Linked DNA regions of Homo sapiens. The protein of the gene in region 1 interacts with the protein of each later gene in a pairwise test. Each region holds a gene or a part of one and is shown in the gene's direction. Other genes may lie near its edges. The genes, in order: SH3GL3 and DNAJC5.

What was found.
Region 2: the proteins of SH3GL3 (region 1) and DNAJC5 come close enough for resonance energy transfer, tested with the Homo sapiens proteins (one study listed by BioGRID).

The regions. Positions count from the first base shown.
Region 1 is NC_000015.10:83,446,980-83,459,427, forward strand, and holds the start of SH3GL3 (endophilin-A3), read left to right. Parts: upstream 1-361; 5' UTR 362-554; coding exon 555-599; intron 600-12,448. UniProt on the Homo sapiens protein: Implicated in endocytosis. May recruit other proteins to membranes with high curvature.
Region 2 is NC_000020.11:63,920,746-63,933,193, forward strand, and holds part of DNAJC5 (dnaJ homolog subfamily C member 5), read left to right. Parts: intron 1-5,426; exon of another isoform or gene 5,427-6,242; intron 6,243-6,556; exon of another isoform or gene 6,557-6,577; intron 6,578-7,589; 5' UTR 7,590-7,600; coding exon 7,601-7,707; intron 7,708-8,566; coding exon 8,567-8,780; intron 8,781-10,105; coding exon 10,106-10,277; intron 10,278-10,719; coding exon 10,720-10,823; 3' UTR 10,824-12,448. UniProt on the Homo sapiens protein: Acts as a general chaperone in regulated exocytosis. Acts as a co-chaperone for the SNARE protein SNAP-25. Involved in the calcium-mediated control of a late stage of exocytosis. May have an important role in presynaptic function.

The DNA.
Region 1 (12,448 bases):
ATTTCTGAGCCTTCCTTTCTTAAACATACACCGAGCGAAAATGCGCCGGAGGGAGGCGATGTTGCCTGTGAGCCAAAGCCGGTTCGGCACCAAGACAGAAGCAGAGAGAACTGATCTCTCTCCCGGTACCCATGACAATCTCAGAGCTAGATCTATATCGTCCCGCGCCCAGCAAGAAGCACTGTGTGACTGTACTCCCCCGACCCCCAGGACATCCCCACGCCCAGCTTCCCAGGCCGGTCTTCTGCGCGGCTCAAGTAGCCCAGGTCTCCACGCAACAATGAAGCGTGGGCGGCCCCAGCAGCTTCATTTGCATATCGCCGCGGCTTGGCCAATGGGCTGCGCAGGGGCTTTGGAACGCAGTGTTGCCATCGGCGTGCGCGCGTGTGTGCGAGTGTGACAGCGGCTGTGGCTGTGGCCGTGGCCGTGGGAGGCGGGCCCGGCGGAGCCCAGCCGCGGGGGGACCGGCCCGGGCTCCCGCTCCCCGAGCGCGTCGCGGCCGCGTGGCCCAGCCGAGCCTTGAGACCACCCCGCCCCTGCCGGTCGCAGTCGCGATGTCGGTGGCCGGGCTGAAGAAGCAGTTCCACAAAGCCAGCCAGGTAGGGAGGCGCAGAGGAGGGAAGGAGGGAGGGGGACGCGGAGGCTGCGGCCCCCCGAGGCTCCCGGGCCTTTGGGACTCCTGTTCCCTGAAGGGCCTCTCTCGGGGCTCAATTTCTTCCCGCCTAGGAGGGCGCGAGGGTGGGGTGAGGGGCCGCCTGCTCTCTCCTCGGCGTCTTGGCGCCTTCTCCTTCCCATTCCCTGGCCCCCGGCTCTGCCCTGGGCCGTTGTAAATCGGAGAGATTCTGCGGAGCGGAGGGCAGAGGTGGCGGCCGCGGGGACTCGGGAGGCGGAGACGGAGTGGGCGTGGGGGGGCCCCTACCCGCGCGAGGGGAGGACGACCACAGGGAGTACGATGCCGGCAGGGCCTCCCCCGAGTCTCCAGCCGTTTGGTTGGGAGAGCCTCGTGGGGGGCCCATCCTCCACCGGCCACCGGCGCCTCCAGAGATGCTGTGTATTTGGCGCTTGGCTGTGTCCCGCTGAGCTCCCCGCGCGCGCATCGAAATGGCCCCGTCTGGACTGTGCCCGGCTCCCCGGCTGGGGCTCTCTACCGCGGTCCTTCCCCTCCCCACCGTCTTCCCGGTGTCGGCCCGGGGCTGGGCATCACGCTTCTGCTCTTACAGAGCTGACAGCCTGCAGGGGAGACACGGAGACAGACACGTAAACAAACAGTGCTAGACACACCTCCACGCACAGAGGATGACAAATAACACAGTGGGGGCGTCAGGGAGAGCTTCCCGGAGGAGGAGACATGTCATTTGAGAATTAAGTATGAGGAAGAATTATGGCTGAGGGTGTGGGATGATAGGAGGAAAGCCGTTCTGAGCAGAGGAAACAGGAAAACAGGAGGGGAGACATGAAATTGATGTGTGTGTGTGTGTGTGTGTGTGTGTGTGTGTGTGTGTTGATGACAAGCAAATTTGTTTTTCAACATCAACATTGCAGGCTCTTCCAGCTATGGCAGAGCTCACGTTGTAAAACCTGTTCCCCACCAGCACCGCTGGGTCTGTTGCTTCTCACCACCTCTCCCCGCAACCCCAGCCCCCATTTTGCTAGAGCCAGGGTAGACAGATTTCATTCAACGTCCACATTTGTGGTGAGGTCTCATCCTGCTTCTCCCACAAATTGGCCCATAGAAAGCAACTGCAATTAGAAGATTCTCTTCTTCTAGCCCCAGTTCCAGGCTGAAAGGCACTGCTGTCCCCTCACTCACACTCTTTCCATATGGAAACTGGGTGATGCTGTTTCTAGCTGGGGGCACTGGGTGGACAGTGGTGCTATTCAAGGTGTTAAGGAGCCCTGGAGGAGAGGCTATTCAGGTGAGGGTGGAGATGATGGATTCACCACTGAACCCAGGGACTTTGAGGGGTCTTTGGGACATTCACATGTCACTGGCCTGGGTTGGGGTGCATATCCTGACCTGCAGCTCAGGGGGTGAGGCTGGTACTGGAGCTACAGATTTTTGGTGATTTCCAGCCTAAGCGGAGATTTAAAAATGTATGTGTAGACAAAAGTGAGAAAAGGCACAGCGAGTTAAAGGCAGACTCTAGACAGCACCCCCATTTAGGGACAATGTTTAGCCCAGTAATTGTTGAGCAGTGACCACTCAATAAATATTTATTGAATAGATGAAATTTTGGGGTGGCACAACACAGGAAAGAAAGAACTCGTAGATGACAGGAGAGAGAAGACCATCATGGAAGGGGGACATTTAAAGGCAGGAGCAATCAACAAGTGCTTCAGTGAGCTAGGTATTGTGGAGTGTCCTCAGCTGGTACAGCCAGGAGGCCGAGTGCTGCTGTGAGCAGAGCAGAGCAGAGCAGTGCCAGAGTAATCGCTGGCTGTACTTGTTACATTGGCTTCCTTAGCACTGGCAGGAAATGAACCTCCTCTTTTGAAAACTTTTCCTTTATTGGGTATGGACTTCACAGGGGCAAATCTCAAAGATAAGCAAATCTCAGAGATAACGTAAGCCCTTGGGTGATTTAAGTTGGTTTCTGACAGTAACCAGAATGAATGGTTGAAATCCTTGGAAGTTATTGGCACTGGAGAAATATTTTGCTAGTCATGGGTAGTTTGGTTTAACTACCTGTAATCAGTACATTAAAAATGAAATGAACAGAACGTCTTATTTAGTCTTTTTTTTTTTTTTTTTCGCATGAGCGGAAATAATTTATGACTTTACCTGAAAGGAGAGGCATCACAGATTCTCTCTGGGCTTCATAGCCATGTTTTGTGGTTAAAAGTACTCAGTAGATATGTTTTAATATGTTCTAGAAGTCTTTCTAAAAAATCTTGCAATGCAACAATTTGGTGGAGAAATCAGACCGGTTTAATATAATATGAGGGAGCTCAATAATAAAAAATGCCAGATGTTTTTCTCAGACAACATTTTAACAGCAGGTTTTAATTCATACAGAACTTACCTGGGGCAGGGGAAGGGAGCCCCAGATGATGTCAATGGCTAAAATAATTTCCAGGGATCTAGGTCTGGCTCAGCCACTGACCAGCTCTGTAACCTTGGGAACATAACTTAACCCATCTGGACCTTGGTTTCTATCTGTATGATGACTCAGGGAATTTAGAAGCTATGTTTCTGTTATAAAAATGATTGTGGCAATGGTTTCACAACTCTGTGAATATGCTGAAAACCACTGAATTGTACACTTTAAGAGAATTGTATGGTATGTGAAATATATCTCAATAAAGTGATACGAATATGTCTCTGTGTCTCTGGGTGTGTGTGTATGTATACATCTCAGTGCTGAAATTCTTAAGTAAGTTAAGCATTTCAGAGTAAGACAAAGATGATAAAGTGGACCTTTTACAGAGAAGGGATCCAGGACCATGGCAAACTGAGATAGTTTTCTGAAAGATAAGCGAGGTAAAATTAGCTATAACCCGGTTAACTGTTCCTTTTTTCCTGATACCTTCCCTATCTCTGGGAAAAAACCCCTACTTTACAGAGAATGAAGACTCGTAAACCCTGGGGATTATGCATCATTTTGGCAGCACATGGAGACCAACAGGAAAGAGGAAGAAATATGCTAAAATGAGAAGAATATAAGTTAACAAAAAAATTTAATTAATTCTAAGTTTCAGCGTTTGAGACTAGAACCCAAATTTTTCTTTTTTTTTTTTTTTCTAATATGCATTATCCTTTATTAAAATGGGATATTTTTCTTTTTTTTTTTTTTTAAGGTTATAGATTTTCTTTTTTTTTTTTAATTTTTTTTTTTCTATTATACTCTAAGTTTTAGGGTACATGTGCACATTGTGCAGGTTAGTTACATATGTATACATGTGCCATGCTGGTGCGCTGCACCCACTAAAGTGTCATCTAGCATTAGGTATATCTCCCAATGCTATCCCTCCCCCCTCCCCCGACCCCACCACAGTCTCCAGAGTGTGTTATTCCCCTTCCTGTGTCCATGTGATCTCATTGTTCAATTCCCACCTATGAGTGAGAATATGCGGTGTTTGGTTTTTTGTTCTTGCGATAGTTTACTGAGAATGATGATTTCCAATTTCATCCATGTCCCTACAAAGGACATGAACTCATCATTTTTTATGGCTGCATAGTATTCCATGGTGTATATGTGCCACATTTTCTTAATCCAGTCTATCATTGTTGGACATTTGGGTTGGTTCCAAGTCTTTGCTATTGTGAATAGTGCCGCAATAAACATACGTGTGCATGTGTCTTTATAGCAGCATGATTTATAGTCCTTTGGGTATATACCCAGTAATGGGATGGCTGGGTCAAATGGTATTTCTAGTTCTAGATCCCTGAGGAATCGCCACACTGACTTCCACAATGGTTGAACTAGTTTACAGTCCCACCAACAGTGTAAAAGTGTTCCTATTTCTCCACATCCTCTCCAGCACCTGTTGTTTCCTGACTTTTTAATGATTGCCATTCTAACTGGTGTGAGATGATATCTCATAGTGGTTTTGATTTGCATTTCTCTGATGGCCAGTGATGGTGAGCATTTCTTCATGTGTTTTTTGGCTGCATAAATGTCTTCTTTTGAGAAGTGTCTGTTCATGTCCTTCGCCCACTTTTTGATGGGGTTCTTTGTTTTTTTCTTGTAAATTTGTTTGAGTTCATTGTAGATTCTGGATATTAGCCCTTTGTCAGATGAGTAGGTTGCGAAAATTTTCTCCCATGTTGTAGGTTGCCTGTTCACTCTGATGGTAGTTTCTTTTGCTGTGCAGAAGCTCTTGAGTTTAATTAGATCCCATTTGTCAATTTTGGCTTTTGTTGCCATTGCTTTTGGTGTTTTGGACATGAAGTCCTTGCCCACGCCTATGTCCTGAATGGTAATGCCTAGATTTTCTTCTAGGGTTTTTATGGTTTTAGGTCTAACGTTTAAATCTTTAATCCATCTTGAATTGATTTTTGTATAAGGTGTAAGGAAGGGATCCAGTTTCAGCTTTCTACATATGGCTAGCCAGTTTTCCCAGCACCATTTATTAAATAGGGAATCCTTTCCCCATTGCTTGTTTTTCTCAGGTTTGTCAAAGATCAGATAGTTGTAGATATGCGGCATTATTTCTGAGGGCTCTGTTCTGTTCCATTGATCTATATCTCTGTTTTGGTACCAGTACCATGCTGTTTTGGTTACTGTAGCCTTGTAGTATAGTTTGAAGTCAGGTAGTGTGATGCCTCCAGCTTTGTTCTTTTGGCTTAGGATTGACTTGGCGATGCGGGCTCTTTTTTGGTTCCATATGAACTTTAAAGTAGTTTTTTCCAATTCTGTGAAGAAAGTCATTGGTAGCTTGATGGGGATGGCATTGAATCTGTAAATTACCTTGGGCAGTATGGCCATTTTCACGATATTGATTCTTGCTACCCATGAGCATGGAATGTTCTTCCATTTGTTTGTGTCCTCTTTTATTTCCTTGAGCAGTGGTTTGTAGTTCTCCTTGAAGAGGTCCTTCACATCCCTTGTAAGTTGGATTCCTAGGTATTTTATTCTCTTTGAAGCAATTGTGAATGGGAGTTCACTCATGATTTGGCTCTCTGTTTGTCTGTTGTTGGTGTATAAGAATGCTTGTGATTTTTGTACATTGATTTTGTATCCTGAGACTTTGCTGAAGTTGCTTATCAGCTTAAGGAGATTTTGGGCTGAGACGATGGGGTTTTCTAGATAAACAATCATGTCGTTTGCAAACAGGGACAATTTGACTTCCTCTTTTCCTAATTGAATACCCTTTATTTCCTTCTCCTGCCTGATTGCCCTGGCCAGAACTTCCAACACTATGTTGAATAGGAGCGGTGAGAGAGGGCATCCCTGTCTTTTGCCAGTTTTCAAAGGGAATGCTTCCAGTTTTTGCCCATTCAGTATGATATTGGCTGTGGGTTTGTCATAGATAGCTCTTATTATTTTGAAATACGTCCCATCAATACCTAATTTATTGAGAGTTTTTAGCATGAAGGTTGTTGAATTTTGTCAAAGGCTTTTTCTGCATCTATTGAGATAATCATGTGGTTTTTGTCTTTGGCTCTGTTTATATGCTGGATTACATTTATTGATTTGCGTATATTGAACCAGCCTTGCATCCCAGGGATGAAGCCCACTTGATCATGGTGGATAAGCTTTTTGATGTGCTGCTGGATTCGGTTTGCCAGTATTTTATTGAGGATTTTTGCATCAATGTTCATCAAGGATATTGGTCTAAAATTCTCTTTTTTGGTTGTGTCTCTGCCCGGCTTTGGTATCAGAATGATGCTGGCCTCATAAAATGAGTTAGGGAGGATTCCCTCTTTTTCTATTGATTGGAATAGTTTCAGAAGGAATGGTACCAGTTCCTCCTTGTACCTCTGGTAGAATTCGGCTGTGAATCCATCTGGTCCTGGACTCTTTTTGGTTGGTAAACTACTGATTATTGCCACAATTTCAGAGCCTGTTATTGGTCTATTCAGAGATTCAACTTCTTCCTGGTTTAGTCTTGGGAGAGTGTATGTGTCGAGGAATGTATCCATTTCTTCTAGATTTTCTGATTTATTTGCGTAGAGGTGTTTGTAGTATTCTCTGATGGTAGTTTGTATTTCTGTGGGATCGGTGGTGATATCCCCTTTATCATTTTTTATTGTGTCTATTTGATTCTTCTCTCTTTTTTTCTTTATTAGTCTTGCTAGCGGTCTATCAATTTTGTTGATCCTTTCAAAAAACCAGCTCCTGGATTCATTGATTTTTTGAAGGGTTTTTTGTGTCTCTATTTCCTTCAGTTCTGCTCTGATTTTAGTTATTTCTTGCCTTCTGCTAGCTTTTGAATGTGTTTGCTCTTGCTTTTCTAGTTCTTTTAATTGTGATGTTAGGGTGTCAATTTTGGATCTTTCCTGCTTTCTCTTGTAGGCATTTAGTGCTATAAATTTCCCTCTACACACTGCTTTGAATGCGTCCCAGAGATTCTGGTATGTGGTGTCTTTGTTCTCGTTGGTTTCAAAGAACATCTTTATTTCTGCCTTCATTTCGTTATGTACCCAGTAGTCATTCAGGAGCAGGTTGTTCAGTTTCCATGTAGTTGAGCGGCTTTGAGTGAGATTCTTAATCCTGAGTTCTAGTTTGATTGCACTGTGGTCTGAGAGATAGTTTGTTATAATTTCTGTTCTTTTACATTTGCTGAGGAGAGCTTTACTTCCAACTATGTGGTCAATTTTGGAATAGGTGTGGTGTGGTGCTGAAAAAAATGTATATTCTGTTGATTTGGGGTGGAGAGTTCTGTAGATGTCTATTAGGTCTGCTTGGTGCAGAGCTGAGTTCAATTCCTGGGTATCCTTGTTGACTTTCTGTCTCGTTGATCTGTCTAATGTTGACAGTGGGGTGTTAAAGTCTCCCATTATTAATGTGTGGGAGTCTAAGTCTCTTTGTAGGTCACTCAGGACTTGCTTTATGAATCTGGGTGCTCCTGTATTGGGTGCATAAATATTTAGGATAGTTAGCTCCTCTTGTTGAATTGATCCCTTTACCATTATGTAATGGCCTTCTTTGTCTCTTTTGATCTTTGTTGGTTTAAAGTCTGTTTTATCAGAGACTAGGATTGCAACCCCTGCCTTTTTTTGTTTTCCATTGGCTTGGTAGATCTTCCTCCATCCTTTTATTTTGAGCCTATGTGTGTCTCTGCACGTGAGATGGGTTTCCTGAATACAGCACACTGATGGGTCTTGACTCTTTATCCAACTTGCCAGTCTGTGTCTTTTAATTGCAGAATTTAGTCCATTTATATTTAAAGTTAATATTGTTATGTGTGAATTTGATCCTGTCATTATGATGTTAGCTGGTGATTTTGCTCATTAGTTGATGCAGTTTCTTCCTAGTCTCGATGGTCTTTACATTTTGGCATGATTTTGCAGCGGCTGGTACCGGTTGTTCCTTTCCATGTTTAGCGCTTCCTTCAGGAGCTCTTTTAGGGCAGGCCTGGTGGTGACAAAATCTCTCAGCATTTGCTTGTCTATAAAGTATTTTATTTCTCCTTCACTTATGAAGCTTAGTTTGGCTGGATATGAAATTCTGGGTTGAAAATTCTTTTCTTTAAGAATGTTGAATATTGGCCCCCACTCTCTTCTGGCCTGTAGGGTTTCTGCCGAGAGATCCGCTGTTAGTCTGATGGGCTTTCCTTTGAGGGTAACCCGACCTTTCTCTCTGGCTGCCCTTAACATTTTTTCCTTCATTTCAACTTTGGTGAATCTGACAATTATGTGTCTTGGAGTTGCTCTTCTCGAGGAGTATCTTTGTGGCGTTCTCTGTATTTCCTGAATCTGAACGTTGGCCTGCCTTGCTAGATTGGGGAAGTTCTCCCGGATAATATCCTGCAGAGTGTTTTCCAACTTGGTTCCATTCTCCACATCACTTTCAGGTACACCAATCAGACGTAGATTTGGTCTTTTCACATAGTCCCATATTTCTTGGAGGCTTTGCTCATTTCTTTTTATTCTTTTTTCTCTAAACTTCCCTTCTCGCTTCATTTCATTCATTTCATCTTCCATTGCTGATACCCTTTCTTCCAGTTGATCGCATCGGCTCCTGAGGCTTCTGCATTCTTCACGTAGTTCTCGAGCCTTGGTTTTCAGCTCCATCAGCTCCTTTAAGCACTTCTCTGTATTGGTTATTCTAGTTATACATTCTTCTAAATTTTTTTCAAAGTTTTCAACTTCTTTGCCTTTGGTTTGAATGTCCTCCCGTAGCTCAGAGTAATTTGATCGTCTGAAGCCTTCTTCTCTCAGCTCGTCAAAATCATTCTCCATCCAGCTTTGTTCTGTTGCTGGTGAGGAACTGCGTTCCTTTGGAGGAGGAGAGGCGCTCTGCGTTTTAGAGTTTCCAGTTTTTCTGTTCTGTTTTTTCCCCATCTTTGTGGTTTTATCTACTTTTGGTCTTTGATGATGGTGATGTACAGATGGGTTTTCGGTGTAGATGTCCTTTCTGGTTGTTAGTTTTCCTTCTAACAGACAGGACCCTCAGCTGCAGGTCTGTTGGAATACCCTGCCATGTGAGATGTCAGTGTGCCCCTGATGGGGGGTGCCTCCCAGTTAGGCTGCTCGGGGGTCAGGGGTCAGGGACCCACTTGAGGAGGCAGTCTGCCCGTTCTCAGATCTCCAGCTGCGTGCTGGGAGAACCACTGCTCTCTTCAAAGCTGTCAGACAGGGACACTTAAGTCTGCAGAGGTTACTGCTGTCTTTTTGTTTGTCTGTGCCCTGCCCCCAGAGGTGGAGCCTACAGAGGCAGGCAGGCCTCCTTGAGCTGTGGTGGGCTCCACCCAGTTCGAGCTTCCCGGCTGCTTTGTTTACCTAATCAAGCCTGGGCAATGGCGGGCCCCCCTCCCCCAGCCTCGTTGCCACCTTGCAGTTTGATCTCAGACTGCTGTGCTAGCAATCAGCGCGATTCCGTGGGCGTAGGACCCTCTGAGCCAGGTGTGGGATATAGTCTCGTGGTGCGCCGTTTCTTAAGCCGGTCTGAAAAGCGCAATATTCCGGTGGGAGTGACCCGATTTTCCAGGTGCGTCCGTCACCCCTTTCTTTGACTCGGAAAGGGAACTCCCTGACCCCTTGCGCTTCCCAGGTGAGGCAATGCCTCGCCCTGCTTCGGCTCGCGCACGGTGCGCACACACACTGGCCTGCGCCCACTGTCTGGCACTCCCTAGTGAGATGAACCCGGTACCTCAGATGGAAATGCAGAAATCACCCGTCTTCTGCGTCGCTCACGCTGGGAGCTGTAGACCGGAGCTGTTCCTATTCGGCCATCTTGGCTCCTCCCCTCAGAACCCAAATTTTTCAAGTGCATAGTTAAATATTTTTTCTCTTGACAAGATTTTTTTGATAGAGCTGTTTACTCTTCTGGTAGAGATGTAGCTTGAGCTATTATAAATAAATACAAATAGCATAGATATGGCATTGTGGTTTCTTGTTAAACGTGGTACCTCACCAATAAAAATATAGCTTACAATATTTACATTTGTGTTACCACTCACTGATTTGTATTTGTATGCTTATTTCATAGTAATTTTTCTTGACAGCATTTATTGTTGAAGAAGGAAGTTCAGGGCACACCTATGTGTGTTCTGACCTGGAAAGTACTAATAGTCATATTCTTTCCATTTCTGGACCTTCTTGTCTTCCAGGGTCCTTGTTCTGCATCCCATAAAAGTCCAGGGACCAGTTTCATCTCTTCTCCTCCTCTCCTTCTCTCCCAAGACTAACCATCTACTGATGACACTTGTGGGCTCCATGTTAAATTTACTTCTTTATGCCTTTTAACTTCTGTCATGTGACTCAGCAACACATGCCAGAGGTTAAAGGACACTGCTTGTAGGGCAGAAAGAAGGGGAGCCTCTAACACAGTGCTTTTTTACAACTTTTCCCCCTTTCTCTTTTAATGCATTAGCCAGAAAAATGATAAGGGGTCATGAGGGGCCTGGACGTATTCCCTGTAATCACTGACTATACAGGCTGGCCATTTAGGGGTAAATGCTTCAGAGAAGGATATTCTTTGTAAATCATGAGATTCTCTAGGGAGGCAATGAATGTCTCTTGTTTCACTATCTCATTAGAGAGAAAGATAAAATGCACTTTGCACAATCCATAATGATTTATTTTTTTCTCTTAGACGCATCAGAAAATATATTAAAGCTAAAACATTCTTGCTCCTTTTCACATAGATTGCTTGATAAACTAATTGATAAATCCTTTTTTTTAAAGTCAGGGTGTGAAGATAGATGTTTAAAATGGATTGATTTTGATTTTTTAAAATATCTTAAGGATATAATACAATCCATATATTTCTTACCACTGAGGACTTTTTGTTCTATAAAGTAAATGTAACTCATGGTATCACTTGGAATTTGATTTAAAAATGCATTTGAAAGCAGGGATTTTTTTCCCTATTGCTTTAGTTTAATTTTTCAGCTTTATTAACAAACGGAATGTAAATTAATTTCCCAAAGTTAAGTGTGTGTGTGGGTATCTCATGTGTATTTGGGGAAGCTATTACTGGCATGCTTTGCCCAGAAGATAGAACTGTCAGTAAACAACTGACACACTGTTCGGCTAAATAGTGAACATATTCTGGAGAATCTTTAGCAGCAAAATGTGGACAGTTAGATTTTGCTTTTCAACAGAAACCTGGGAAAGTGTTGAGCTGAGGGGAGAGTCTGAGAGAAGTACTATTGATGAGATCAGGGAGGCATTGTTTCCAGTTCTAACTATTCTAGTTCTTTGAAATGCTTTCCCAATGGGAATTCCTTCCCAATTTCCAGGGTCATCCCAATGTTTTTACCACACACAGCACCAGCAGCCAGTGGCCTTCCTGAGCCAGGTGTTGTTCCTTCTGACTTCCAAATCCAGTGGATAATGGTGTCTTTTCCCCGTCCCTGGCTACATCTTCCTCAGACAGTAATGCTACTAAGTACTTTGCCTGTTCAAATCATCCATCCGTGGTAGAGGCTGCTGATATTTCAGGCTGGATAACTTGAGTCCTCCCTAGTGAATCTGATATCCGAGTCAAATCTTCTCATCCTTGTCCACCTTTCTTTCTTCTGGGCCACAAATCAAAACTCTGGAGGGTCTTGTGAGCTCATATGTAGTGCTTCAGTGCTTCTCCAGTGCAACAGTGGAAGACACACCTGGCTAGTCACACCATTGTGCTTCCAATCCCATCTCCTCTCATTTTCTCAGGGACTTTGCTCTTGTTGCCATCTCTTCTCTGCACTATTGTTTCTTCTCTCCTGGATAAATTTCACTGTAGGACAAAGAAGGGTGTATTAGTCAGGGTTCTCTAGAGGGATAGGACTAATAGGTTAGATGTATATATGAAAGGGAGTTTATTAAGGAGTATTGACTCACACGATCACAAGGTGAAGTCCCACAATAGGTTATCTGCAAGCTGAGGAGCAAGGAAGCCAGACTGAGTCCCCAAACCTCAAAAGTAGGGAAGCTGACAGTGCAGCCTTCAGTCTGGGCCGAAGGCCCGAGAGCCCCTGGCAAACCACTGGTTTAAGTCCAAGAGTCCAAAAGCTGAAGAACTTGGAGTCCAATGTTCGAGGGCAGGAAGCATCCAGCACGGGAGAAAGATGAAGGCCAGGAGACTCGGCCAGTCTAGTCTTTCCACATTCTTCTGCCTGGTTTATTCTAGCTGCGCTGTCGGCTGATTAGATGGTGTCCACCCAGATTGAGGGTGGGTCTGCCTCTCCCAGTCCACTGGCTCAAATGTTAATCTCCTTTAGCAACACCCTTACAGACACACCCAGAAACAGTACTTTGCATTCTTCAATCCAATCAAGTTGACACTCAACGTTAGCCATCACACTAGGGTTTAAGAAAATGATGGCAGGTCTAAGCGAGTCATGGAGGGTT
Region 2 (12,448 bases), on another chromosome or scaffold:
CGGCTCACTGCAACCTCCCCCTCGAGGGTTCAAGCGATTCTCCTGCCTCAGCCTCCTGAGTAGCTGGGATTACAGGTGTGTGCCACCACACCCAGTTAATTTTGTATTTTTAGTAGAGACAGGTTTTCTCCATGTTGGTCAGGCTGGTCTCGAACTCCTGGCCACAAGAAGCAATCCACCTGCCTCAGCCTCCCAAAGCCTTGTTTGCTTTTTTTTATTTTGTTTTGTTTTGAGACGGAGTTTCACTATTGTTACGCAGACTGGAGTGCAACGGCACGGTCTCAGCTCGCTGCAAACTCCACCTCCCGGGTTCAAGTGATTCTTCTACCTCAGCCTCCTGAGTAGGTGGGATTACAGGCATGTGCCATCACGCCCGGCTAATTTTGCATTTTTAGTAGAGATGGGGTTTCTCCATGTTGGTCAGGCTGGCCTCAAACTCCTGACCTCAGGTGATCCGCCCTCCTCAGCCTCCCAAAGTTTTGGGATTACAAGCTTGAGCCACCGTGCCCGGCCACCTTGTTTGCTTTTTAAAGATAATGATGTCACTAAAAGAGTTCTGACTGAGGCCGGGCCTGGTGGCTCACACCTGTAATCCCAGCACTTTGGGAGGCCGAGGCTGGTGGATCACGAGGTGTGGTGATCAAGACCATCCTGGCTAACACGGTGAAACCCCGTCTCTACTAAAACTGCAAAAAATTAGCCGGGCGTGGTGGCGGGTGCCTGTAGTCCCAGCTACTCAGGAGGCTGAGGCAGAAGAATGGCGTGAACCCGGGAGGCGGAGCTTGCAGCAAGCCGAGATAGTGCCACTGCACTCCAGCCTGGGAGACAGAGCGAGACTCCGTCTCAAAAAAAAAAAAAAAGAGTTCTGACTGAAGGTTGGAACTTAGCCCTCCAGAAATGAAGACTGCGAATAACGCTGATGGCAGCTCGTCACTTGCAGCAGGTTGCAGCACGTGCTGCTCGTGTAGCTGCGGCTGCACACCAGGCCTCTCCTTTAACTGTGTTATAACCTTTCTGTTGACATGGGATCCCCTTGAAAGTTTTTTTTTTGGAGACAGGGTCTCACTCTGTCACCCAGGCTGACGTCCAGTGGTGCAATTTCAGTTCACTGCAACCTCCTCCTCCCGGGTTCAAGCCATCCTCCTGCCTCAGCCTCCCAACTAGCTGGGATTACAGATGCACACCGTCACACCCAGCTAATTTTTGTATTTGTAGTAGAGATGAGGTTTCACCACGTTGGCCAGGCTGGTCTCAAACTCTTGATCTCAGGTGATTCAACCACCTCAGCCTCCCAAAGTGCTGGAATTACAGGCGTGAGCCACCACTCCCGGCCCCCTTGAAATTTAAACCAAGTTTAGGAAGAATGAAGTTGTGAGGTGCTACTTCAAACATCAGGTGGCAAACTCCCGGACTCATTACCCCAAGGAAATAGGCAGTCCAGGTTGGTGGCTCACGCCTGTAATCCCAGCACTTCGAGAGGCCGAGGCAGGCGGGTCACCTGAGGTCAGGAGTTCAAGACTATCCTGGCCAACATGGTGAAGCCCATCTGTACTAAAAATACAAAAAAATTAGCTGGGTGTGGTGGCGCGCGCCTGTAATCCCAGCCACTTGGCAGGCTGAGGCAGGAGAATCGCTTGAACCTGGGTGGTGGAGGGTGCATGGAGCCAAGATTGCACCATTGCACTCCATCCAGTTTGGGTGACAGAGTGAGACTCTGTCTCAAAAAAAAAAAAAAAATAGACATCAGAAAGGGTTGGCTCCTGTGATCTCGGCACTTTGGTGACCATGACCCAAGGCAGGAGGATCACTTGAGCCAAGGAATTCAAGATCAGCCTGAGCAACATAGACCCCGTCTCTGCAAAAAATTTCTAAAAACTTAGCTGGCATGGTGGCTCACGCCTGTAGTCCCACCTATTCAGGAGGCTGTGTTGGGAGGATCACTTGAGTCTGAGAGGTTGAGGCTGCCATGATCCCTTATCACACCACTGCATTCCAGCCTGGGTGACAGAGCAAGACCCTGTCTCCAAACAAACAAAAAAGCAAAAAATGGTGTTTTACCTAGGTATTTACCATTTCCAGTGGTCTTCATTCCTTTCTAAAAATCTAGGTTTTAGCCGGACATGGTGGCTCATGCCTGTAATCCCCAGCACTTTGGGAGGCTGAGGCGGGTGGCTCACCTGAGGTCAGGAGTTCCAGACCAGCCTAGCCAACATGGCAAAACCCAATCTCTACTAAAAATACAAAAATTAGCCAGGCGTGGTGGTACGTGCCTGTAGTCCCAGCTATTCAGGAGGCTACGGCAGGAGAATCGCTTGAGCCTGGAAGGTGGAGGTTGCAGTGAGCTGAGATTGCACCACTGCACTCCAGCCTGGGCAACAGAGTGAGACTCTGTCTCAAAAAAGAAAAAAAAAAGAATAAGTCACATTTTGGTGAGGAGCAGTGGCTTGCACCTATAATCCTGGCACTTTGGGAGGCTGAGGCAGGAGGATCACTTGAGACCAGCCTGGGCAACAAAGCCAGACCGTGTCTCTATAGAAAATTTTAAAGTTAGCTGGGCATGGTGGCACATTCCTGTAGTCTTAGCTGCTTGGGATGCTGAGAAGGGAGGCTTTCTTGAGTCCAGGATTTCAAGGCTGCAGTGAGCCAAGATCGCACCACTGCACTCCAGCCTGGGCAACAGAGAAAAACCTTGTTTCTAAAAAAAAAAATTAGGCTGGGTAGGGTGGCTCACACCTGTGATCCCAGCACTTTGGGAGGCTGTAGCAGGCGGATTGCTTGAGTCTGGGAGTTTGAGACCAACAAGATCCTGACTCTATAAAAATTTTAAAAAATAGCTGGGCGTGGTATTGCACACCTGTAGTCCCAGCTACTCAGGAGGCTGAGGTGGGGGGATCAGCTGAGCCCAGGAGGTCAAGGTTGCAGTGAGCTGAAATGTGACCACTGCACTCCAGCCCGGGCAATAAAGTCAGGCGGGGAAAAGAAAGAATGAGTTAACATTTTCTCAGCTTTATGTGTTGAGTGATTTTGGATTCTATCCTGAAATGGTAAGAATGAAAAGAAAATCTGCCAAGTCCATCCGTTCCTACACTCTCACTGCCTCCAAGTCATTCTGCGCTCTTGAGCCAGAACGACCTGGCCGTTTTTAAAAATGGAGTTTTTTGCCTTAGTAATTGACTTGTGTAAGAGTTCTTTATTCCACTTGTGAATTGTTTTTTATACGTACATAATGTAAATATTTTCTCCCCTTCTGTGCCTTTCAGTATGAATCTATCTGAACTCGATTCTGCTGTTGTGTGTGTGTCTTTTCCTCAGTACCAGATGGTCTTGATTACTGTAGATATATAGTATATGTCTTGAAATCAATAGGGTAAATTCTCTAACTTTTGTTCTTTTTATTAATGTTGCTGTGGCTAATCTGTCTGCTACATTTCCTTATACATTTAAAAAAATCAGTATCAGTTTCTGCAAAAAAAAATCCTCTTGGATTAGGGTTAGGCTTCTGTCAAGTCTACAGATCAGTTTGGGGAGAACTGACTTCTTTATATCGAGGCTTCTAATCCGTGAACATGAGGAATCTTTTTCTTATCTTTAGTATCTTAGCAATTTGTGGTTTTCAACGTACAGATTTCATAGGTCTTGTTATTTCTTTTTCTTTTTTTGAAACAAGGTCTCACTGTGTCACCCAGGCTACAGTGTGGTGGCACGATCATGGCTCACTGCAGCCTCGAGCTTCTGGGCTCAGCCATCCTCTTATCTCAACCTCCTGTGTCACTAGGACCACAGACATGAGCCACCATGCCTATTTAACTTAAAAACAAAAACAAAAAACCGGGCACGGTGGCTCATGCCTGTAATCGCAGCACTTTGGGAGGCCGAGGGGGGGATTGACTGAGGCCAGGAGTCCGTGACCAGCCTGGACAACATGGCAAAACCCTGTCTCTAAAAATACAAAAATTAGCTGGGTGCAGTGGTGCGTGCCTGTAGTCCCGTGCCTGCGGCATGGGAATGGGTTGAGCCTGGGAGGCGGAGGTTGCAGTGAGTTGATGACTTAGGATTTTTCTTCTCGGTCACTTTGCAAGCCGGGGACCCCTGGCCAGTGATGCCCCACCTGGGCCCTGCTTGGCCACACTGGCGTGCCCCAACTCACCTGTGTTATAGCTTGTACTGTGTTCGGCCATTCCCGAGCTCATGTACCGCACTCAAGATCAAGGATACACTGGACATTGAAGGGTGAGGAGGGCGGAGAAGAACTTTATTGAGCAGTGAAACAGCTTTCAGCGGACCAGGGGATGCAGGGGTGGTTCCCCTACCTGAAGGCAGGAAAGTCCGCCTGTGTGGCTGGGTCTGGGGCTTTTTATGGACTCAGGATGCGGAGTGCTTGCAGAGCTTGCTGATGGGTTTGTGAGTATGCAGAAAAGGTTAAAGTGGGCATGACAGTGTAGAAAACCAATTATAAGAGGCCGGGCACGGTGGCTCACGCCTGTAATCCCAGCACTTTAGGAGGCTGAGGCAGACGGATCACAAGGTCAGGAGTTCAAGACCATCCTGGTCAATGTGGTGAAACCCCATCTCTACTAAAAATACAAAAATTACCTGGGCGTGGTTCGCGTGCCTGTAGTCCCAGTGACTTGGGAGGCTGAAGCAGAAGAATCGCTTGAACCCGGGAGGCAGAGATTGCAGTGAACTGAGGTCACACCACTGCACTCCAGCCTGGGCAAACAGAGCGAGACTCCACCTCAAAAATAAAAATTAGGAAAGGGTAGGTATGTGTAAAATAGGTGAAGGATGGGGATCAATCAGAGGAAAGTGTGGCAAACAGGAAGGCAAGTTCTTCATCTAGTCTGAGGATTTAACTTGTAGCTCAGCTGTCAGGCTTTAAACTGTCTTTGGCTTGGAGGTGGGTTTCACCGGGAACCCGCCCCATCTGCCTGGCATTCAGCTGCCTCCTGCCAGTATCACCGAGATCGCGTCACCGCACTCCAGCCTGGGCAACAAAGCGAGACTATCTCAAAACCCCATATTGATGTCATTTCCTAAATATTTGGTTAAAAAAAAAATCTGGGCCTGGAATTTTATCTGGTTTTTTTTTTTTTTTTTTTTGAGACGGAGTCTCGCTGTGTCGCCCAGGCTGGAGTGCAGTGGTGCGATCTCTGCTCACTGCAAGCTCCGCCTTCCGGGTTAACGTCATTCTCCTGCCTCAGCCTCCCGAGTAGCTGGGACTACAGGTGCCTGCCACCACTTCCGGCTAATTTTTTTGTATTTTTATTAGAGATGGGGTTTCACTGTGTTAGCCAGGATGGTCTCAATCTCCTGATCTCGTGATCTGCCCGCCTTGGCCTCCCAAAGTGCTGGGATTACAGGCGTGAGCCACGGCGCCTGGCCTTCTGGGGATTTTTTATTACAAATATAACTTTATTAACAGATGCAGGCCTATTCAGATTTTCTATTTCATGTCAGTCTTGGTAAATTGTAATTTTCAAGATATTTGTCCATTTCATCTAATTTTTCTAATTTCTTGGCATGAAGTTGTTCGTATTTTATCCTTTTCACGCCTCTAGGATCTGTAGTGATGTCTTTCCTCATGTTGCTCAAAGAACCAACTCTTTTGGCTTTGTTGAAGTTATCTGTTTGTTTTCATGGATTTCTGTTCCTTATGATTTCCTTGCTTGCATTTATGTTGGGTTTATCCTGTTACTTTGTAGCTTCCTGAGGCGGAGCCTTAGGCCTTGATTAACGTGTTGTACTAGTCAGCATTCTGCAGAGGAACGTTGCCATTATCTGTGTCTCTTTCTAAAGGAGATTTGTTATGAGGAATTGGCCCACGTCATTATGGAGACGGAATCTCATGCTCTGCCATTTGCTGAAGATTGAGGAAAGCAGTGGGATAATAACAGTCCAAGGACAGGAGGAGACACGTGGCCCCGCTCAGGCTGGCAGGCGAGAAGGAAAACCCAGGCCAACTCCTCCTCCCACCCCTTTCTATTCGGGACCCCCGTGGACTGGGACGACACTCACCTGCACAGGGCAGCGCAGTTGGCTTCATGGAGCCCCCAGCTCAGGTGCTGCTCTTACCAAGAAACACCCTCCCAGGCACACCCTGAAGTCATGTTTCATCTGGGTGCCCCACGATGCAGCAAAGGAGACATGAAATTAACCGTCATGTACACTGTATTTATTATTCAATTCAAAACATTTTCTAAGTTCCCCTGGGATTTCTTCTTTGAGCTACATGTTAGCCGGAGGTGTGTTGTTGAATATCAAGAGTATCTTCCTCCTGGGTTTCCAGTTTGTAGCTAAGTCAGGGATAGTGCTGTGTGTGACCTCATTCCATTACGTTTATTGAAACCAGCTTGAAGCCCTAACATGTGGCTTGTCTTAGTGTACAGCATTCAGTTAAAAACAATGTGTGTTCTCTAGATGTTGGGTGTTCTGTGACTGTCACGTCATGGTGGTTGATTAGTTAGAAACAATGTAGAAACAATGTGTATTTGCCAGGCGCTGTGGCTCACACCTATAACCCCAGCACTGTGGGAGGCTGAGGCAGGCGGATCACCTGAGGTCGGGAGTTCAGCCTGAGGTCGGGAATTCAAGACCAGCCTGGCCAACATGGAGAAACCCCATCTCTACTAAAAATACCAAAATTAGCTGGGTGTGGTGGCACATGCCTGTAATCCCAGCTACTCCTGTGTGAGGCTGAGGCAGGAGCATTGCTTGAACCGGGGAGGCGGAGGTTGTGGTGAGCCGAGATCGTGCCATTGCACTCCAGCCTGGGCAACAAGAGCAAAACTGTCCCCCCCCCCAAAAAAGAAAGAAAGAAACTGTGTGTTCTCTAGATGTTGGGTGTTCTGTGAAGATCAGGTCATGGTGGTTGATAGTGTTGTTCAGAACATCGATGTTTTTCCTGATTTTTGGTCTGTTCTGTCGATTTCTGAGAAAGTATTAAAATTAAAGTTGGGTCTTGCATTTTTATCCATTCTGTCAGTCCCTTACTTTAATTGGAGTTTTTTGTCCACTAACATTGAATTTAATTGTTGATATGTTTGGATTTAGATCTTCCAACTAATTTTCTATTTGTTTCCTGTGTTGAGTTACTTTTTCATTTTTCTTGTAACTTTTTAGCTTATACCTCTTTGCATTTTTTATGCAGAGGTTGCTGTAAGGATTACAATATGCATGTTTATTTTAATTAATTAATTTATTTTGTTTATTTATATATTTGTTTTTAAGGAACAGGGTCCCTGTCTCCTGGGCTCCAGTGCAGTGGAGTGATCATAGCTCACTGCAGCCTCAAACTCCTGGGCTCAAGCGGTCCTCCCGCCTCAGCCTCCCAAAATGCTGGGACTACAGGTGTGAGCCCCTGTGCCGGCCCACAGTACACAGCTGCAGTTCTTCAGGATCTCTTGGGGTGGCCGTATTCTGCCGTCTCACACTTCTCCATGCCATGGCGTCTGTCTGTGCACGTGGCAAACTCCACAAGGCAGTGTTGGATTCTTTTGCTTTGAACGGTCTTATGGAATAAAGTCCATCAGCTCTGCCCTTGGTACTTTCATCTATACTTTGTGATACTTTCTTTTTATTTTTTCTTCTAGAATAGCCTAACATGGCAGACCAGAGACAGCGCTCACTGTCTACCTCTGGGGAGTCATTGTACCACGTCCTTGGGTTGGACAAGAACGCAACCTCAGATGACATTAAAAAGTCCTATCGGTAAGTGGACAAGTGTGGCCCCCACATCCCCCCAGGAAGACACACATGCCCCGTGTGGTTTAGTCTGCATTTTACCAAGAACCATTGCACATACTTTATCCTGGCCGACTCAGCGTTGAACTGGTCACAGCTCGGTAACACCTTTGTATGTGTAATGTGCTCCTTATAGCTTAAAGTTATGGTATTCATGTTCTCTTGCCAACAAAAAATAGCACTTAGTAGAAACTGACACACTGTCCACAGTTCCATAGGGAGTCAGGGTCTGAACCTGTTTGAGGCCTCACAGGAGCCGCAGAGCGCTGGCATGGTCCTGTGGTCTCCTTGTTTTAGCACAGTGATGACAGAGACCCCTCACTCTGTTGTGGCCTTCTGATTGAGCTTGAAGAACTGCACTCTTGGGTACAGTTTCATTGAGTAACCTGTAAGAGACACCATCACTAATCCAGACAATTCAGATAGTCCTCCTCTCGTGTGCTAGCATCGTGTAGTTCATAAAACACTTCTTAAAGTGCCATCATTACGCCCCGCCGTGCTTACCGTTCACTTGGCACTTGTGCAGTTAGCGGCTGGGACACCAGGGCTGGCCTTGGTGCCGCTGAACTTAGATGTGCCGTGGCACTCACAGCCCTTGGGGCTCCCTCCTCTGAGGCTGGGTCAGGGTGAGGAGGTTTACCTGAAACAACCGCGGAGCTTGCTTTTGTCCCTGGCCCCTGCAGCCCTGGAGAGTCGGACAGTGAGGTGGCCTGGGTGGACCTGCCTTCCACTGCACCCGGCAGTGCGTGCGGGTGGGATGGACGCGGCGGCGGGTGCGGGTGGAACAAAGTCCAGGGTAGAGCCAGGACATGGTTTTGGTTTGCAGGAAGCTTGCCTTGAAATATCACCCCGACAAGAACCCCGACAACCCGGAGGCCGCGGACAAGTTTAAGGAGATCAACAACGCGCACGCCATCCTCACGGACGCCACAAAAAGGAACATCTACGACAAGTACGGCTCGCTGGGTCTCTACGTGGCCGAGCAGTTTGGGGAAGAGAACGTGAACACCTACTTCGTGCTGTCCAGCTGGTGGGCCAAGGTGAGGGCGAGCTGCCTGCCGTGCGGGCACCCGAGTCACTCCTGCCGTGCGGGCACCCGAGTCTCTCCTGCCGTGCGGGCACCCGAGTCACTCCTGCCGTGCGGGCACCCGAGTCTCTCCTGCCGTGCGGGCACCCGAGTCTCTCCTGCCGTGCGGGCACCCGAGTCACTCCTGCCGTGCGGGCGCCCGAGTCACTCCTGCCGTGCGGGCACCCGAGTCTCTCCTGCCATGTGGGCACCCGGGTCACTCCACGCCTGCAGGGTTCCCAGCATTGCAGAGCCCATGCGTTGATGCCAGCAACTCTACACTCCTGAGAAAAGGCTTCTGGGCATATGGAGCCTTTCTCCTCACCTGTGTGATGGGCGAAGCTCTGTCACTGGCTTGGTGTCCTGCCTGGAACAAGCCATAGCGTACAGATTGTCCCAGGGAAGAGCCGTGCGGAGCCGCCAGGGTTTCTTCTGTAAATGGCTCCCAGTCCTTCGTGAGACAGGAGGAAATAAGCCTCGATGTTACATCCGCATTTCTTCGTTTCCTCGTTTTGTTCCAAATGTCATATATGAGGCCAGAGGGTTGGAATCACTGCATGGCATTTGTGAGAAGCCTGTATTTGGCTTTGACTGGTCGGCCTCCTCACTAGAATCCTTATAAAGTACTTTTTATTTAGTTAATGTTAGACAGAGTCTCGCTCTGTTGCCCAGACTGGAGTGCTGTGGTGAGATCCTGGCTCACTTTAACTTTGAATTCCTGGGTTCAAGTGATCCTCCCACTTCAGCTCCAGAACTGCAGGAGTTGAGGCGTGAACCACTGTGCCCAGCCTGGAGGCTGCTTTGTTTTTTTTTTGAGACGGAGTCTCGCTCTGTTTCCCAGGCTGGAGTGCAGTGGCGCGATCTTGGCTCACTGCAAGCTCCACCTCCCGGGTTCACGCCATTCTCCTGCCTCTGCCTCCCGAGTGGCTGGGACTACAGGTGCCCGCCACCACGTCCAGCTAATTTTTTGTATTTTTAGTAGAGACAGGGTTTCACCGTGTTAGCCAGGATGGTCTCGATCTCCTGACCTCGTGATCCGCCAGCCTCGGCCTCCTGGAGTGCTGGGATGACAGGCATGGGCCACCACGCCCGTCTTGGAGGCTGCTTTTCTTTAAGCTGCGGGTTTCTTTCTGTCTCTCCTCCTCCCTTCTTCAGTTCTTTCCTTCTGCTTCCTGTCTGGAAGGCAGTATCCCCACCTGGAACGCACCCCCTGCCTTCTGCTGAGGGCATTTGGGAGTCCTGCGCCTCCCTCTCCAGGGGCCTCGGAGGCCATGCAACACCACCTTCTTCTCCCCCCAGGCCCTGTTTGTCTTCTGCGGCCTCCTCACGTGCTGCTACTGCTGCTGCTGTCTGTGCTGCTGCTTCAACTGCTGCTGCGGGAAGTGTAAGCCCAAGGCGCCTGAAGGCGAGGAGACGGAGTTCTACGTGTCCCCCGAGGATCTGGAGGCACAGCTGCAGTCTGACGAGAGGGGTGAGTGCCCGCCCCAGGGCCCGTGTGTGTGTGTGGGGCAGAGCCAGAATGGGCCCTGAATGGTGTCAACCTGTCTTGTCAAACAGGAGGGCACTGACACTGTGCCGCGAGTGTTTGTGGTGGCAGCTGGGACTGTTGAGGTGTGAACGTGGACCCTGAGGTAAAGCAGGCGCATAGAGCTGTCCCCGCCGTGACCTGCGGTAGCCGTAGATCCCAGGGACTGCGAGGCGGGGCAGGGCGGCAGGCAGTTGGGGCGGGGCTGAGGGCCGAGGGCTGGCGGTGACCCAAGGCGACGGAGGAAAGCCGTGTGGGGTGGAGGTCAGCGAGTAGCCTCTCCCGGTGGAGAGTTTGTCCAGGTGCCCGAAAGTCGCTCCACAGGACCAGCGTTGGGTGCGCGCCAGGCTGTGGCCCTCGTGCAGTGCCCTGTGTGCTTGCTTTTCAGAGGCCACAGACACGCCGATCGTCATACAGCCGGCATCCGCCACCGAGACCACCCAGCTCACAGCCGACTCCCACCCCAGCTACCACACTGACGGGTTCAACTAAATCCAGGAGGAGCTGTGGTCAGAGGAGGAGCCGGCGCCTGGCCACGCCAACCTTAGAATCATGAACTGTAGTCACAGAGATGGGAAGGCAGCCTCCTGCCTGCCCTGGCCTTGCTGGGGCCCCTCCTGCCTCCACGCCCACCCAGCGTCGACCCTTGACCCACGAAGTGCGTAGCATGCAGTATTTAAAGCAGTGTAGCTACGGTCTTCTGTTTTTTTCCCTTTTTTAATAGCATGTATGGGGTTCTGTTCCATGTCTGTGTTGTGGACATTCCGCGGCATGACCGCGTGAACTGCACGGTGGAGCTGCCTCAGGGCTGTCGGTCAGGTTGGTCCAGTGAGGGGTGACTGCAGCCGGTCAGGTGGGCGAGGAGAAGGGGGGCTGCCCCTTTCCTACCTGTGCTTGAGGGGCCGGAGGCAGGTGCTGCCTGGCAGAGCTGTGTTACCGTCTTGGCCTCGGGGTCTGGTCCACACTCTGTGCTCCCAGCCTTGAGGCTGCAGTAGGACTCTGATCTCACCTGCCAGAAGAGAGGCGGGGCCGCGTCCTCCTGGCGTCACCGGCGTCACTGTCATTCCTTGGTGTCTGTGCTGGGCATGGTTGGCTTGGGGGTCTGTGGTTTCCTGGGCCTTGTGGCAGGGTTTCTCCCGTGGGAGAATTTGGTGTGGAAAGCATAGGAGGCCCCTTCCGAGGTTGACACCGTGTCCTCCGCGGTGTTTCTCGCCTGGTCGTCTCGTCGTGTGGACGCTGCCGTTCTGGTTCTCGGAGGTGTGTCCTTCGCCGTGTTGGGGTTATTTGTCTGTGTTCCTGCACTTTTCCCGGGCTCTGAGCTGGATTGATGGGGCCAGTCTCCCCCCTCCCATCTTGAGGTCGTTCTCCACATTCCTTCCAGCACACCTGTCCTTTCCATAGCCCTTTTTGGACCTTTAGAACCACAGATGATAGGACCAGCCCAATGAGCCACAGTCAGAGAGTAGATTGTGCATGTGTGAGCACCCAGCTACTGGGGACGGGGGCTCTCCCACGACCCCTCCTCCTGTGTTTGCCAGAGCTCCCATCTGCCCCACTCGCCTTTGCCCCGTCATCGATGATTCAGGCAGAGCCAGATTCGTTAGGTCCCTGGAGGAAGGACTGACTGGACCAGAGGGACCCTCTGGCTCAGGAGGGTTGGGTCCCTGGGAGGCCGGCAGCCAGGCCACAGAATCCACACGTGGACCATTGTGGGTCCCTGGGAGGCCGGCAGCCAGGCCACGGAATCCACACGTGGACCATTGTGGGTCCCTTGGGAGGCCAGCAGCCAGACTACGGAATCCACATGTGGACCATGGGAAGTCAGTCTCTTGCGTGTCCTAGACCTTGTGGGTGGCGCCCTGCATAGGGGAGCAGGGGGAACGGGTCTGATGTCCCTGTGCTGGCTGAGGGCTCAGAGCTGCCCGCACTCCGTAGCTCATGGGATGTGCTGGGCCTGCCTTTGGCGCCATGCTGCAGACTCCAGTGGGCCTGGTTTCTGCAGAATGTCCATGGTGGCCGCTGCAGAGTTGCAGAGGTCCCTGTAGAGATAAAGCTGAGGAGGAGGCTGTGTGTGATGGCTCTGGCTCGGACCAACCAGATGAGCCTCCTGAAGCCCC